Linked DNA regions of Homo sapiens: region 1 is linked to region 2. A link means that fine-mapping ties the variant in region 2 to the expression of a gene that starts in the linked region. Tissue or cell type: prefrontal cortex. Region 2 holds a variant in brackets; the other region holds the start of a gene. All regions are shown on one strand. Distances are from middle to middle.

Evidence for each region. PIP is the estimated chance that this variant, and not a neighbour inherited with it, causes the effect. A credible set is the group of variants that fine-mapping cannot tell apart.
Region 1: it holds the start of NRAP, and the variant in region 2 is the best candidate, but not a certain one, in a credible set for the expression of NRAP in prefrontal cortex (ROSMAP, PIP 0.53).

Annotation. Positions count from the first base shown.
Region 1 is chr10:113,661,768-113,667,055 of GRCh38, forward strand. NRAP (nebulin related anchoring protein) reads right to left here and starts at 2,274. Exons shown (of 42, transcript NM_198060.4): 1 at 2,044-2,274; 2 at 1,585-1,679; 3 at 912-999. The coding sequence starts at 2,115.
Region 2 is chr10:113,607,485-113,612,772 of GRCh38, forward strand. NRAP (nebulin related anchoring protein) reads right to left here. Exons shown (of 42, transcript NM_198060.4): 30 at 4,750-4,947; 31 at 2,975-3,079; 32 at 930-1,028. Among named protein-coding and RNA genes, the nearest start is that of NRAP, 54 kb to the right of the region's middle. RefSeq lists a silencer at 3,526-3,820. The variant T/C (reference allele first, on the strand shown) is at 3,031.

The DNA.
Region 1 (5,288 bases), 54 kb after region 2:
TTTCCAAAGGAAAACATCTTTGACTTATCCCCACCCCAAGGGGAAAACAGGCTGCCAATAATCATAAGTAATGACTGAATTCAGAGAGACTTAACAGTGTGAAACTAAAGGTTTTAATTTTGTGTACCAGAATGTCACAGGGAAAAGTCAAGATCCTTGTAATATGTTCCAACTACGTAAGCATTGTTTTATGTATTAAGCACCTAGTATATGCAGAGCCTACTCTATAAACTGTCATCATTTTATGAAACAGTCTTGAGCTGGTCAAGACACAAAGATTATACTGAAATCAAGGACCTCAATTATTCAATCTAGATTATCCTGTATATTGGCTCCTAATATTGTGGGAGAACAAACAGTCATATTTGTTACTCAAATGCACTTTACATGTGTATGTGGAGGAAATGGGCAGGTTCACATGCAGACAGAGACACTTAAAAACTTAACATGTGCCTAGCATTGTTAATCGGTATATAATATTTGCACATATTTATGGAGTACATATAATATTTTGTTACATATTAGAATGTGTAATGATCAAGTCAGGGCATTTAGGGTGTTTATCGGCTCGAGTATTTATCATTTCTATTCTAGCTATTTTGAAATATATGATACATTGTTGTTAATTGTGGTCATCCTACTCTGTCTGCTATAGGACATTACAACATGTTCCTTCTTTTATTTATTTAACTTTTTAAGAAATAAAGACAGGGTCTCACTATGTTGCCCAGGCTAGTCTCTAACTCCCAAGCTCAAACCATCTGCCCGCTTTGGCCTCCCAAAGTGTTGGAATTGTAGGTGTGAGCCACTGTGCCTGGCTAGAATATATTCCTTTTATCTATTTGCATGTTTCTACCCAGTAACCAATCATTCTCCATACCCTCCATCCCACTGAAAATTAAATAACTTACCCCACTGATGGCCTCTGGAAATGTCCTCACATTTAGATTTAATGGAGTGTGATAGACACTGGTGAAAGTGTTGTTCTTAGGGTTATGGCTACAACAAATAGGTATAAATCAAAATTAGAAATGTACTTTATCCAAATGATTGAGGGACTATTCTTAAAATTATTTTTAAATAATAACAGTTATTTTTAAAAAATCAATAAATGTAAAACTTAAAAATTAAGTTCGTGATTTTCCAGGCAATGCATCTTACAGAAAAAAAAGCAAATCAAATAAAATCGACATATATAACTGAAAGCCTAAATTTAACTGGAAATGATCACTTGAAAACTTTCTGAAGAAAGTAAAAAAGGATTCTGAAATTATTTAAAAGAAAATACTTCAAAGCTCTATATGCATATTTATGGCCATTACATTGTTCTGCACAGTATTTAATAATTTGACATGAGGTTATAGTGGATATATTTGATCTTTTACTTGGAAGAAATTTGAAGTTTTGTGTCCATTGCATAAAATCCCACCTTAGGTCTCTTTAATGACAGGATACAAGGGAACACTTTGGGAGAAGATATTTCTTGGATTTAACCCTGGGTTATATGATTTGAACGTTTAGTTGGCTCCTTGTTGAAAAACAAATAAAACTCAAGAGGTAGTGGTGGGGGCATCAAACACTTACGCGTGACAGTACGGCTTTTTCTGGTGACTCACAAAGTTATTAACAGACAGCATCATCTTGCAAACTTCACAGTGAAAACAGGCTTTATGCCATATCTAGAAATCATATAGAGAAGATTTAGCAATTACCCTTTTCCCCCCAGACTCAAGGTTCTTATATATTTTAGGGTAAAAAAATGAACTTCGAGGATAAAATGCTGATTTTAAAAAAATTAAAATCCACACACACAGCTATAACAACACTCACGGTTAAATAAATGGATAACTTTTTTTTTTTGAGACAACACAGAAGAAATAGAAATGTGTAGAACTAAATAAAGGTGAGAAAATATAACTTTTTCTTGTGGTTCAAAACAATTTAACTGAAAATTAAATTTCCATATTTACCTATGTCCATATGTGAGAAGGTCAATTTCCTGTGTTTGTTATTATTCACAAAAGCCAAGAAATGTCTACTGACCTGATCTATACAGCTGATCTTCTCGGCAGGATAAACCCCATACCCACACCTAGAACAGGGCTGCACATTCATCTCGAAGCCGGAAGAGAGAGGACAAAGATAGGCAACAGGCAAGAAATGCAAGGAGAACCCCCAGTCTAGTTCAAGTCTTCAAAATCCGACGACCATAAAATTCCTGTGGGCACCTCGATCTTTCAGAATCCAACTTCCACTTTCCTTTGCTGACCTTCTAGTTTGAAGTCAGCAGTTGGATGGTTTTTAAAGCTGCCACTTACTCAAGGGGCTATTTTGGCCACTCACTCAGCACGCATGTGTCTGGGAAATAAGGTGGAAGTATTTCTAGCTGACATGCTTCTCTAAATAGAAAAATGAACTCACAACAGCATCATGTTTATGTGGATAACCAAACCCTGGTGTATGATCAGGCAGCATGGAGTGGTTTAGCACTAGCTGTGATCATGACCCAAGAAAAGAACCTAAAGGAAGATGCCACACCGTCATCCAACAATCAAATTAGAAAAGCTTGCTCTATGCGTCCTATGACTAAAGCAGAAAGGCCAGCTCCCAAAAATATAGAAAATAAAATAGGATTGATTCACTCCTTTAAATGGATAAATATCACACTTGAATTTTAACTTTACCTACCCAAAGCGTTTACAACAGTTAAACTAAAAACTTAATAAGGTGTTAGTTTGTGTTTAGCTTCTACTGGAACGCAAAACTAAAAACTAATGAGAACTCTTGGTGTTTTGGCCTCTGTATTTTATTCTAGAATGTTCCAAGAAGGCCTTTGTGCTTGTTCCCTTGCCTCACAGGCCTTAAAAGAGGTGATATGAAGACAGAATCTCTCTTCCTGGCTTTGGGAAGCCTCTCATTGCCTTCAGTCTCTGCTGAAATGTCACCTTATCACCTTATAGAAATACCTGATACAAAATGGCACCTCACCTGTCCCCACTCCTATCTCATTATCTTCCATTACTCTTAGCCTGCTTGATGGTCTTCATAGTGGTAATCACAGCTGGACATATTACATGTTAATGTTTCTATTTTTAAAAATTGTGTCTCTCCCATCAAAATATGAGTTCTGTCTAAACAGGATCTTTGGTCCTTTTTGCCACTTCTATATCCCCCATGCCTAGAACAAGGTCTGCCAATAAAAGGTGCTTAATAAAGATTTATTGGATTAATGAAATAAATTTAATACTCACACCAAAATGCCTATAGAGGCCAGGTATGAAGTCTAGATAATGGTAGGAACTTTTCCAAATAGATGAGCACTCATCCCATCTGAAGCAGGCAACTGCTCCTCAGTCCCAGCCAACTGTCATCATGAAACAATCAACATTCCAGGTTGCCAAATATCCTGATTTTTCCGGAATATTTTCCAAATATTCTGAGCACACCAGAAGTCTGCATTTACAAATGAAATTCCCCTTTTTGTATATAAAACAATATAACAGAGTCGTGGGCAGTATTTGGCCAGCAGGTTACCAATTTGTGACCTTGGCCCTAAATGTTCTGAGGTTAGGTTGGTGTCCCCAGGTAGGGTGGAGTAAGATGAGTAGTATTTTGGGGTTGTGCTGAGATAGCCAGGGGGTAGGAAGAAGCTCTAAAGCCAATGAAGAAGAGTAGCATTCAAGTCCACATGAGTATAAGGGGAAGGCGGAGTCTCAGGTTTTCCCACATGGGGCTAGGGCTCTCTCAGCATGGGGAGGGGACTCAAAGCAGGGACTCCAGGCTCAGCAAAGACTCCCACACTGAAACGTGATTGGGCAGGAGGGCTGCCACCAGCCTGCAAATGAGAACAGCAATGGGCACAGCACAAAGACCTGCAGGGTTCCCCGGTTGTTTTGCTCTGCACCAGGCTTCTCAAGCCTTACTTAGTGGGTGGGGTGGAAGCTCCAATAATCACTGAAATGAACTGTACCCCAGTCCGGAGGGCTGAGGAATCAGGAGGATTTCACTTAAAAAAGAAGCTTGCAACGTTCCTTCTCTGCCTAAGCTTGTGATTGCAATCTGTAGCCGTTAAAACGGGTTGGTCACATTTGTGAACACAAGAATTACAAAATGCAAGATGCTAAACTGGATTTGTACCATCACTTCTGATTTATTAGACATCAGAAATTGCTAGGAGAAACAACCCCATAGAACTAGAAATGGGATAGTTTAAGGAACTAGAAGTAAACACTCATTTCTGGGGCAAGACAAACACAGACTTCACTGTGTAGTCGAGTCTTGGTTGGTTCACACCACCCTTCTCATGTTATATACAGCCCCTCCTGCTCCTTGGCCTAAGCCCCTCCCACTTGACGCAGGGATTACAGCAGGCCGTCCAAGCCAAGTCAGTGAGCATACCACATTCCTTTGGCCTTAGGAGTTGGTTCAGATAACATCAGTCTTAGCCTGGGTTCTCCAGAAAACAGAACCTGTGTCAAAGGCTTATATGCAAGGACTTTATTCCAAAGTATAATCCAGGGAGCAAGAGTTAGAAGGCAGGAAATGCAGGGCAGGGAACAGTTGGTATTAGGGTTGTTCTCAACGGGGCCACCAGCTGGTATAAAGTGTATTGAATGGCTTGACCATCTTCCAAGGGGCCATATAAACAACCGCTACTCAGGAACATCTACCAGAGGAAGGAAGGGTCCTGTCTCCCATTGGTGAAAGGTTTGCCCCATTGGCCATTAATGTCCATGCTGTGTATGTACACAGGGAGTCCCATGGCATCTCGCACCTCAGTATCAACAGGAAAACACCAAGGGCAGCAGAAGGCCAAAGACACTGTCAGTTGTGCCCACGTGAAGATGGCCAGAGCCCTCATAGAGACAGTGGCCACTACCGAGGCTGAGCCTGCTCAAGTAGGCAAAGGCCCTACGGAAGGTGAGGCTGAGTGAATCTAAAGCAGCCCTTCCAGGTGTCTGATGCACTGGGCTCTCAGCAGAGTCCTGGACCTGGGCTTGGTGGTGGTGAGCTGGAGCCTGATCTTGCAGAGCCTTGTGGAGCCTTGATCTGGGAACTTCGGCCCACACCACCCCACATTGCTCTGGCTTTTTTTAAGTCTTGACTCATAGGGAGCTTTTTGTTTCACATTAATGACTTTTATGTTCAGTATGTGGGCAAGTAGTTTCCTTTTGAAAGTTAAATGTAGTCCTCCTTATTTACCTCTTTTCAATTTCATCCTGTTGATGGTGGTCGCCTTGCTTTAGGCGGTTGAGGTCTTTTTGGACTTGGATTGAGTCATCCAGGAT
Region 2 (5,288 bases):
TGCTGAGTTGGCTAACGCCAGAGGCCATCAGAGAAGGCACTGTTATCCCACAGCACAAAGCTCATAAAGTAAGCAGAAAAGATGAAATAGGAATTTAAAAGTGATACTATCACTCTAAAAGATCATGAATTCCATCCTTAAGCCCAAGCTGCAATTTCTTGCTTTTCAGTTGAAGCAAGTAGGAACTAATAGGGTAAATAACCAAATCTCAGCTGACTTCTATAAGTTAGAGTCAGAAGGAGAATCTTAAAACCTAAAGGTGGTTCAAAATGTAATTCTCTGCCAAGCTCACCTATTTTGAACCTGTAAGAGAGCCACTAAGAAGAAGTAGAATCAATGAGGCTGGAATGATAATTTTACAGAATGAGATTCCTTCCCTTGCACCTGCCCTCTGCTGGATACATGAAAGTGTAAATTGGGTAAATGGTGAGTGAGAAGAGGAGAAGGTAGATAATTGAGAAGCCTGACAAACATCTTACAATTTAACTGTCCTTGGATAACCACAAATCCTCCCACATCAGATTGACAATGTAAAATTGGTTAGCCAATATTTGCCTAGATAGAACAAATGAATTACAGACCAGTACTTCTCAGATCTTCATGTGCCAAAGAATCATCTTATGATCCTGTCAAATGACCATTTGGAGTCAGTAGATCTGAGGTTGTGCCTTGCCAGTATGCTCCCAGGCAATGCTAATGTAGCTGGTCTGGGATTGCACTTGGAAAGCAAGACTACAGACAATCCCAGATTCCCAACTGGGCTTTCATTTCCTCTGGAAAATGTTTAGGTTCCATATAATGACATTCTTTTCTTTCCAAACCTCCACATAAACACCCATGCTCTTTCTCACCCCAAACACATTCACGTGTATTTTTAACAATCGAGCAGTTTTTAAAAAGACCATTCCAAAGCCATCAGGAGATTTTACCTCATTCGTTATCTGGTTGCTGAATTTCGCATGAAGGAGGTTGGGAGTGTCTGTCACAGCTGTGTACTTGAATGAGTGGGGATGCTGCCGATATTTACTCTGAATTCACACACAAGAAGGGAAGAAGACGACTCCGTAAGGGATAAAAACCAGAAGCAGAACCAGTTCTTTAAGTATTAGCCATAAAGCCTCGTTTTGCAAAGGCTGCAAGTCTATCACTCCAGAATCCAGATTGTCACCTGCCTTTGTGACCCCAAAACTCACTGGGATGAGGAAGCAGAGAGGAGGATAGGATGGACTGAATCAGAACCTTCTAAATGGAAAAGGGAGATTTAGTCCTTTGCCATGAATGTGAACATGACTATTTAAATTTGTGGTTTGTTCCAGATCTTTGCTGGACAGAGAACCAGTGCTCCTCTACCTTGATGGCATATCACAAACTGCAGCTTTAAAAAAACAGACATGCCAGGCATAGTGGCTCATGCCTGTAATCCCAGCACTTTAGGAGGCCAAGGCGGTGGGATCCCCTAAGGTCAGGAGTTCGAGACCATCCAGGCCAACATGGCGAAACCCTGTCTCTACTAAAAAATACAAAAATTAGCTGAGCATGGTGGTGCACATCTGTAATTCCAGCTACTTGGGAGGCTGAGGCAGGAGAATCGCTTGAACCTGGGAGGCGGAGGTTGCAGTGGGCTGAGATCGCACCATTGCACTCCAGCCTGGGTGATAGAGTGAGACTGTCTCAAATAAATAAATAAATAAACTAAAATAAAAATAAATAAAACTTTAAAATAGGTGTGCCTACACCCCACCCTGAGAGACTGGGATTCAGTAAATTAGTCAGTGGGGCCCAGGCCTCTGCATTTCTTAAGGTTTTTTAAGGTTCTGATGCACCATGAGGTACAGAGACCACTTGCTTTAGAGATTTCTCTGGAAAAGCAAAGCATGAGGTTAAATCTAAACTCCCCTAGCAGGCAAAACATAAGCTTATCTGAGCACTCAGGCTGACTGCTGAACACCTATTACTTCCAGTACCTTCCATTATCCCCTCTTGTCCCTGCATCTACCATGAATTAAAGTCCTGTCACCCTCCCAGGGGTGAGCAAGATTCCCCAGGAAATCAGAAAGCTTAGAATTCTAAGACTTCTTTATTTTTACCAAGAAATTATCACCATTTCAAGCTTATAGTAACCATTTCATATACAGCTGCCAGAAAAGCACAGTGCTTAGATTAGTGCTAATCCTCACAAAAATTAAAAGAGAGGGGTCTGAGTATACCCATTTGACTAATTAAGAAGTGGAGGCTCAGAGAGGTGTAGGTCACTGGCTTGAGGTCACACAGCAAATCAGTGCTGGCCTGGAATGTCAATCTCTCTCTGTTGGTCTTCAAAGGCTGCTTTGTTTGCATTGTACCACAGGGCCACTCTTCAAAGGGACACAGAGAGAATATCGCATGGGCCAGTGAATAATCCTTATATGTTAATAGAGGAACTGACTCCATATCCTCAAAGCTGTCTTAAATGGCATGCAGTCTGAATGGAGAATCCAGTAAGAAAAAAAAAAAAAAAAGTCCAGCCCAGGGGGTTACGGAGTGAGTCACTGCTGCTAAGAGTTTAACATCCAACTGGCTTTAGTGGTAAGAAACAAACTGATTGGCTGGGCGCAGTGGCTCACGCCTGTAATCCCAAAACTTTGGGAGGCCACAACAGGTGGATCACTTGAGGTCAGGAGTTCGAGACCAGCCTGGCCAACATGGTGAAACCCCATCTCTACTAAAAATATAAAAATTAGCCAGGCATGGTGGCACTCACCTGTAATCTCAGCTACCTAGGAGGCTGAGGCAGGAGAATCGCTTGAACCCAGGAGACGGAGGTTGCAGTGAGCAGAGATCGTGCCACTCTACTCCAGCCTGGGTGACAGAGCGAGACTCCATCTCAAATTAAAAAAAAAAAAAAAAAAAGGAAGAAAGAAAAAGGAAAGAAACAAACTGATTATCCTCTGCTGTGGAAATGTCCTGGACACTCAACACCAGCATCTGTAGTTACCTCACTGATGAGTTCCGATGCTTTCTTCCTCCCTTCAATCTCTAACGTGCCTGGAA[T/C]GACACATGCAACACCTCGCATAAAGTTCAGGTCTGACCGGTACAAATTCTAGAAGAAATAATAAATACAAAGAATCAGAAAAGCCAAGCTCTCAGAACAGGGAAGCAAAGCAAAACCAGAGGTCTCATGACACAGCATCTGACAGCGTCATAATTAGAACTCAAGGCTGAACCCGTCCCTCCGGATATATTAAACTCAGCCAACGCACAAACACTTCTTGGTAAATGCTCACTAGGGGGGAAGCAATGTAGGTCAGAAGAAAATAATTCTGCTGTCACTTGTCTCAGAGTAGCTGTTCCACAGAAGCGAGACAGATTTTTATTTTAATGTGGGCTATCAAAAAATAAACACTGAAGCGGATTGTGGTTAGAAAGTCAGTTGTCTTGGGGCAAATGTGGAAATGGTCTAACAGGTCTTCTAAAACAAAACTCAGCAGCAGCGGGTGGCATTAATTAATCATGGGTTAAGAAAGAACTAATAAATAAATCCAAAAGAATCTGGCAAAGGCCTGCCTGAGTTCGTGTGGGTGGGGGCCAGTCTGTGTACCTGAATGATTCGGGCTGACAGTTTAAAGAGTTCCCACATTCACTCCCCTTCAGCCAGTGAGGCGCCCCCTGGGCGTCCTGCCTTCCAATCGCTATCACAACCAGAGGCAGGGCAAGTGAGGGCTCCGCTCAAGTGACAAACGGGCCCCCGAGATGAGCGTGGCAGCTCCCTCGTTCCTACAGCTGCTCTCAGGTTCCTGACAGTTTATGTCATTCAGTAAACGCTGTACACAGGCGTAAAATCCAAACAGACGACAGACACCCAGATCTGAGTGCCGCTCAGATCGCAGGCACTGCCAAACCAGGAAAGAGGTTTTGTGCGGAGTTTTCTTTTCCTAAGCGGGCCCATTACCTGCAAATCTCATAGCATGGAAACCTAGCAAGCTGGGAAATAAGGTGAGTAGTGAACAGGATGTGGATGCCTGTTGGGAAGAACACTCTGGCTCTCCTTGGGAGTGAGGAAGTCTCCAATGCTTCCTGACCCTCCTGGGCCTGTCTGCTTCAGAAATCGGGATCACGAGTGAGAAATGCATGTCAGAGGAGTACAAAGACTCCTCAAAGGGACCCAAGGAGGGTCTCCAGGGCCCTGATTTCCCTCTCCACTCCCTGAAGTGCGTCAGTCCTGACAGGTTCTGAGCAGCCTCTCCCAACAGATCTTAGCCCTCCTCAGAAGGCGGGTGGCACAGGAACGCATGAAGCACCAAGAGGAATCCTTCCTGAGACTTGAGGCCAGAGGCAATATCATTGGCAAATCTTAAACATGCACAACCATGAACCTTGAGGGCATCTTTGTCATTCAAACCTCAAGTTCAAATCCCAGCCCTCTCTTTCTAACTATAGCTGTGTGATCTTGGACAAGATATTTAACTTCTCTGCATTTCACTGTAATTTCTCTGTAAAATGAGAATAAACTAATGATATGGGCTGATTGTGAGATAATGCATAAAACAATGCTTAGAGTGCAGCAAAAAATAATAAATTGTGGTTATGATTAGATTTGTGTAACTGTGCTTAAGGGATGTGCAGGAACTCTCAGACTGGGTTTCAAAATAAGACTTGGGTTTAGGATTTCTCACTTCCAGAGATTTCACTGAGCCAACAGGAGCCTGGAGGTCACCACCCTGAGGTCCTAAGAGAAGAAGGGGCCCTGAGAAAGAGGCCAGGTCTCCTTACCTCACTCTGCAATTTGTGAGCTTTCTTGGCACAGCTCAGCCTCAGGTCTTCTGCCAAGGAAGTGTACTGGGGCAGTGGATGTTTGTAGTCCTGATTGCTGGCCAGGGTCTGAGCCTTCTTGGCATGCACCAGGGCGGCCATGTCCAACGGCAGATGGAACTGCGCCTTTGAGTGTTCAAAGCCTTTCTTGTAATTCACCTAGAGGGGCAGACAGAGCAACAGCAGCTATTTCAAAGCCACTATTTGCAACAGGACCATCAGGGAGGGCAACTGCAATGCAGTTGTCTGGAGGTAAGCCCAGGGGAAGTTCTTGGCAGGGCCAGTGCTCCTTTCTTGCAGAGACTGGCCTAATAACCAGGGCTTGTCTCTAGGCCCTGACACTTACCACCCCCAGCTCCTGGAGGTCATTGATCTGGATGAAGAAGGCCCATGGTTCCCTCATTTGAGGAACATACAAAAGTCCAAGGAACAGTAAATAATGTCAGTGATTCCCTTGCTCAAATCTTTAGATCTTTCTATTTTTCAGAGGCAAGAAGATG